Regions from separate parts of the Homo sapiens genome. Here region 1 is linked to region 2. Evidence: fine-mapped expression QTL. A gene starts in region 2. The other region holds a variant in brackets. All regions are shown on one strand. Distances are from middle to middle. Region 1 overlaps FREM3 (FRAS1 related extracellular matrix 3). Region 2 holds the start of FREM3 (FRAS1 related extracellular matrix 3).

The links. PIP is the estimated chance that this variant, and not a neighbour inherited with it, causes the effect. A credible set is the group of variants that fine-mapping cannot tell apart.
Region 1: its variant is the best candidate, but not a certain one, in a credible set for the expression of FREM3 in prefrontal cortex (ROSMAP, PIP 0.71).

The regions. Positions count from the first base shown.
Region 1 is chr4:143,635,589-143,638,505 of GRCh38, reverse strand. The region is part of intron 2 of FREM3 (FRAS1 related extracellular matrix 3); the gene reads left to right. Among named protein-coding and RNA genes, the nearest start is that of FREM3, 64 kb to the left of the region's middle. The variant TA/A (reference allele first, on the strand shown) is at 1,254.
Region 2 is chr4:143,699,306-143,702,222 of GRCh38, reverse strand. FREM3 (FRAS1 related extracellular matrix 3) reads left to right here and starts at 1,548. Exons shown (of 8, transcript NM_001168235.2): 1 at 1,548-2,917. The coding sequence starts at 1,548. RefSeq lists an enhancer at 1,524-2,181.

The sequences.
Region 1 (2,917 bases), 64 kb after region 2:
CTATATTAACTATATCATATTACATTATATTATATTGTTTTCTCTGGAATAAAGAGTTTGTTTCAACCTCCTCCTTAAATCTTGTATGCTCCTGAGAAGGTACAATGTTTTCTGCCTTCCAGTTAAGCCATGTGGAGCCTCAACTCCCAAAAAGAGATGGCCCATGTGGGCACGCAGTGTATTTCCACTTTGCTACTAATTGAAAGCTTCTGCTAATATAATCGTTTTTAAAAACTCTCTAATGTCTTGCTTTGAGACTTCTTTGGGTAATTTTATTTTGTGTCAAAAGCAGAATGTGGTGTCCCTGTTGAGGCATGCAAAAGAATCTAAGAAAAGCTTGTGGTCTTTATTATTTCACACTGTTTCCGCTGTCCTTATATTGAAGAACACTAATTTAAGAAGGAGAAAAAGGGCACGAAAACTTGTATTGTTATACATAGCATGACATATTGGGTTTTTATTCTCCAAAACGGAGAGCCAAATATATCATCAAGACAGTTTGGGTACATCTCCAAAAAGAATACACCAAACACCTCTCAGTGAACAGAATTAGAGCTAGCAGTCTTGACACCTGCCACCTTCTTCTCTCCCCACCCACCAACCATGTGAGCACAAAGACCTCTCCCTCCACCACCTGCCCCACATGTCCAAAGATTGCAGAGGTGGATTTAAGAGCATTGTCTGTGAGTGGCATCTCTGCGGCTTAGGAGAATACAACTAGGAAAAGGACCACATAAATCTCATATCTTTGTTGTTCTTTTGGTTTTTTCCCTCTTTTCTGAAAAACCTATGGGTTATTTTGTACGGTTGCACAAAATAGCCTATTGTTCCTCAAGAAGAGAATGGATATGAGCCTGTAATGTTGCAGTCTCCAAAAAGAGAGCCACCTGTCCCTCCAAGCTCCAGGATGTGAGTGGTGGCACCCTGAAGCACTAAGAGGGCACAATCAGGGAGACCCGGTGAACAGTTGAATAAATAGAAGTGAATTAAGCAAAAGCCTGAGAAATGGAACTGGACAATCAAGTGGAATAATACCCTTATTTGGGAAGGGAATATGGCAAATTTCAACCAATAAGACACATTTTTGAAATTGCTACCAACAGCTCCAGGAACATGGGAGATAGCCAGAGGAAGAAAATGGAGACCTAGCTGACATGCAGTTTGGCTTTTTCTGTTACCTAATCTGCCAATTCTTCTATTCCAAGTTACTTTCTTTTCCTTAAATTTATAGTTCTATTGGAAAAAAAGACCAT[TA/A]TATTTATCATCTGTAGACATGTAACTGGAGCTGTGCATGTGAAGTCACAAGTCAGAGTAACACATTTCTCACTGTGAAGCATTTTCCAAATGACAATGATACTAACTGACACTATGTGACAATTGCTAAGTAAAGGTATTGTTTCCAAATGCATGATGAATGGGTGCTTATGGAATTCAAATACACTTTAAAACTACATTATGGTGTGAGCTGTAGAAGCTAAATGCTTATGACAATGAAGCTATTTGAAAATGTTATGAAGTATTAGAAAACATAAGCATATATAATATTAATTTTTCTTTAAGTTATTAAGCACTCAAGATAGAATATCCTAGTCAACTAAAATTTTTTCCAAGTTTAAGTCATAAACATTTAACATTTGACAGTGGCTGCCACTTTATCATTTGGTAAATGACTTTACCTATTTGAGAGTCAGCATTTATTAAATGCATTTTCAAAATTTATTTAGTGGTATATAATCTTTTTATTTTGTTTTTATTTTTGTGTTTATTTTTCAAATTATTGCACTTTTAAAAGAGGAGATTATATTAGAAATTAGAATTAGTAATTAAGTTATATCAAAATTAAATCTTCCTAAATATAGTATTTAGGTAAAATACTTGATGTCTTTTTCCCATATTTTTTAACCTAATGGGAAATAATTGTGAAAACATAAATGCCATTATGCTCTTCACATTTTGATAAGTTAAAAATTCTGCAGTTGGATGTTTTTCTCTATTATTACTTTAATAGTCACTTTCTAAGCCATTCCTATTCCTCAGATTTCTATTTTTCTTCACTTTACTGTGCACTCAAATCATTTTCTTGTACTGGCTGGTCCTATCAGAGCCTTTCTACTGATTCCTGTCTCCTTCAGCTTGACCATCTCTCCATGTCTTTTTTTTTTTTTTTTTTTTGGACAGGCTGCACAGTGCCCAGCCCAATATTTACCTCGTAATGGGCATCTGGTGCATGTTGGTCCCTCTTTACTCTCATTTCCCAGTATGAGGTTATATGTTTTCCTTTCTTTTTTTTTCTTTAGAACATTAGGACATCAATTTTATTCTATGTAGTTTAAAAAAAAAAACAAAAACAATGTTTTCTACTGTTTTATGATGTGAAGAAAGGAATTTAATAATAAAAGCTTAAGTTATAAAGATGATATTTGTCCTGCACTCCCCTACTTCTGAGGTCTCTCACACACAATGTTTCTTTGCACCTCTTTACCCCCACTTTATAGATGAGGGAGCAGATGAGAAGTTGCCTAAGGCCAGAGAGCTACTGTGTGAGTGAACAGTGTCAGGTCTTGCCAACTGAACCTGACAACCTGATGCTTCCACTTCAAAATACTGTCTGAAAAAAGTGTGATGGTAAATCAAACCCCACTAAATAGCTCTTCTTCATGACTTGTAAACTCTGATTTTCTCACATGGAAAACAGTTTTATATTATGATTTTCCTTGGATTAATTTAGGCAATGCTAAGACTACCTTTTGAATTCAATAGAGAGTGTTTGATTATCTACGCCAAATTCAAATCTAAAATGTTTTATCATTCTTCTAAAACACAGTCATGTGAGATATATGAAGATTTGTATCAGATTCAGTAAAATTATTTCATTTCACCTACACCAGTAGTTCTTAATCAGTGGTGATTTCCCCCC
Region 2 (2,917 bases):
TATGAACAAATCTGTGTGCTAATGGGGCACACTAACATTCAACTAAAGTGAATTGTATAGACCCATAGCATTTCACTGGATGATTAAATTAAATGTTTAGAGAGAAAATTAAATCTTTCAAGTCACTAGCAGATTATTCTTGCCCTGAAAATCAGCTGATGCCGTTGCTGCTGTGAATAAAACAGGCATTTGTAACACGGTAAAAAACTAAAAGAATAACATGGGGATAACATTTAAAGATTTCTATTCCCCCTTGAAGCCATTTCTATCAATATAGTTTGTAGACATCTATTTTTACTGTCATCAAAAAGTCTCTCACATTCACATTAATTTTATAAGGAAGCACGTTACTATTACTACTACTTTATTTATAGAAAAAGATTACTCTGCACTGTAACTAAATTGGCTATTTTAAAACTTAAAAAATTAATAGGATTCTGTTAAGTACCTAACACTACATCCATAGTCACCTTCATCTGAAAGCCATGAAGAGACTGATTCCAGGTGTTAAATGATTGAGCCACAGAAATTGATCCAAGTATTCTGCTACTGTTTCCTTTGACATCCTCCCCTCTGGCTACTGTCTACGAAGAAAGTAATTAGAAAACAGCATGTCTAATAAACTAACAGGCAAGTCATTGTTGATCAGATATGGAAACCACATTCTAAGAAAACGAAAGGAAGCCGAGCCGCACACCTGATTTTGTTATGTGAGACCCAATGACAAAAAAAAAAAAAAAAAAAAAAACCCAGATTACAAGCTGTTCAAGTAAGTTTGGGTGCTGATTTTCTTTTTCAAAACCTGAGCAGAAGAAAAACGTCAGGGTTGTTTGGAAGCACCGAATTACAAGATCCTGAATAAGCTGCTTCATCAGACAGACAGCTAGAAAATCCTATTTGCAAAATAGCTCCCACCAGCTTCTTTTATGTCCGAAGTGAGACTCAGTTTTTGGCTAGAAGATACACTCCTGTCAGCGGTAAGGAAGAGGAATGGTGTCTCTCCCCCTTTTCAGAAACACCAATCCCTGGATGAATGGACAACAGGAGCTCAATCTCACAGACGCAGGACTGACCCGAGTACAGTCACCGTCTCTCTCCCAACCCTGAGGGACAATCCCTTTGTGGCACCTGGGGAAGAGAGTATCCAGACAGCTGGTCGGAGTCTGGCAGCGCGGGCAGCAGTGCGGCGGCCACGGCTCCCGGCGAGAAGGTGTGTAAGGTAGGCTGGGTGAAGCGCCCAGGAGCGGAGGGGACAGCGCTGCACCCTCGCTAAGTCTCGCCGCGCTGGGCGCGTATCTGGGGTCCCCAGAAGCCAGCAGAGAGAGACTTGCGACCGGGGCTGAGCAGGAAGTGGGCAGAGCCCCTTCCCCCGCTGCCGTTACCTGCAGCAGCCGAAGCGCAGCCGCTGGCTCTTGCTGGATCCGCAAGTCGGCTACCGACTGGACAGCAGCTACTGCTTCCACTGCCTGCACCTGCCGCTCAGCAGATCCCTCTTTGCACAGGGCACCCCACCCCGGGAATCCCAACGCCAGGAGCCATCCGTGGCCATGGCGGGGGCTTCTCGGCACCCGACTGGGACGCCCCGGCAGCTCCTTGTGGCGCTCGCCTGCCTGCTCTTGAGTCGCCCCGCGCTGCAGGGACGGGCATCCTCACTTGGGACCGAGCCCGACCCGGCGCTTTACCTGCCCGCCCGGGGTGCGCTTGACGGCACTCGCCCCGACGGCCCCAGCGTGCTGATTGCCAACCCTGGACTCCGGGTGCCCCTGGGTCGTTCCCTTTGGCTCGACCCGCTCCGGGATCTGGTGATTGGAGTGCAGCCGGGGGACCGGTGCGAAGTCACGGTACTGGACGCCCTGCCGCGGCTCAAGGGCGCGCTCTCCCCGCGCCGCTTCCCCTGCACCTTCGGGCCCCGCCAAGTCCAGTACACTCACTTCGGCTCCCACAGCCCCGGACGCGCCCGGGTGCTGCTGCAGCTGCGCTACGACGCCCCGACTCACACTCTGGTGCTGCCCTTCACGCTGGCGGTGGACTTGGTCTTCTCCCAGCTGGAGCTGGTGACGCGTAACAGGCCTTTGGTAGTGGAGAAGCTGCGAAGCTGGAGCCGCGCCATAGACAGGAGAGTGCTGGACTTCGCCTCCCTGAAGTCTGGAGCCACGGCCACCCGCAGGTGCCGGCTTACCCCACTTCCTCACGAGGACGGCCCCCTGCCCAAGTACGGGCGCTTGGTGGACGCGGTGGGGGCCCCTCTCCCCAGGGGCAAGGGCGTAGACTGTGAGGCTTTCCTCCGTGCTGGGGTGCGCTATCAGCACACAGCCACCTCCTCGCCCAACCGTGACTACGTGCCCATGATGGTGGAGCTGCTGGGGCCTGAGGGCCAAGACGCTGGGTCCGCGGGTGTGCTGGTCCGCGAGCACTTCCAGCTGCTCGTGAGGATCCGCGGCGGAGCCGAGAACACACCGCCCAGGCCCAGCTTCATGGCCACGATGATGATGGAGGTGGATCCACTGGTGCTGACAGCCCTGACGCCTGACGCACTGGCCGCGGAGGACGTCGAGTCAGACCCTGGTGACCTGGTGTTCAACATTCTGAACGCCCCCACTCACCCACCAGGGCACCCGGGGCAACAGGGCTACGTGGTCAGCACCGACGACCCTCTAGGGCTTCCAGTCTCCTTCTTCACCCAGCAGGAGCTGAGGGAGCTGAAGATTGCCTATCAGCCCCCTGCAGAGAACTCCCATGGGGAGCGCCTCTTTCAGCTGGAGCTGGAGGTGGTGGACGGAGACGGCGCCGCCTCAGACCCCTTTGCCTTCATGGTGACAGTGAAATCCATGAATACTCTGGTCCCAGTGGCTAGCCATAACAGGGGACTTGTGCTTTTTGAAGGTCAGTCAAGGCCCTTGTCCAGCACCCACAGCAT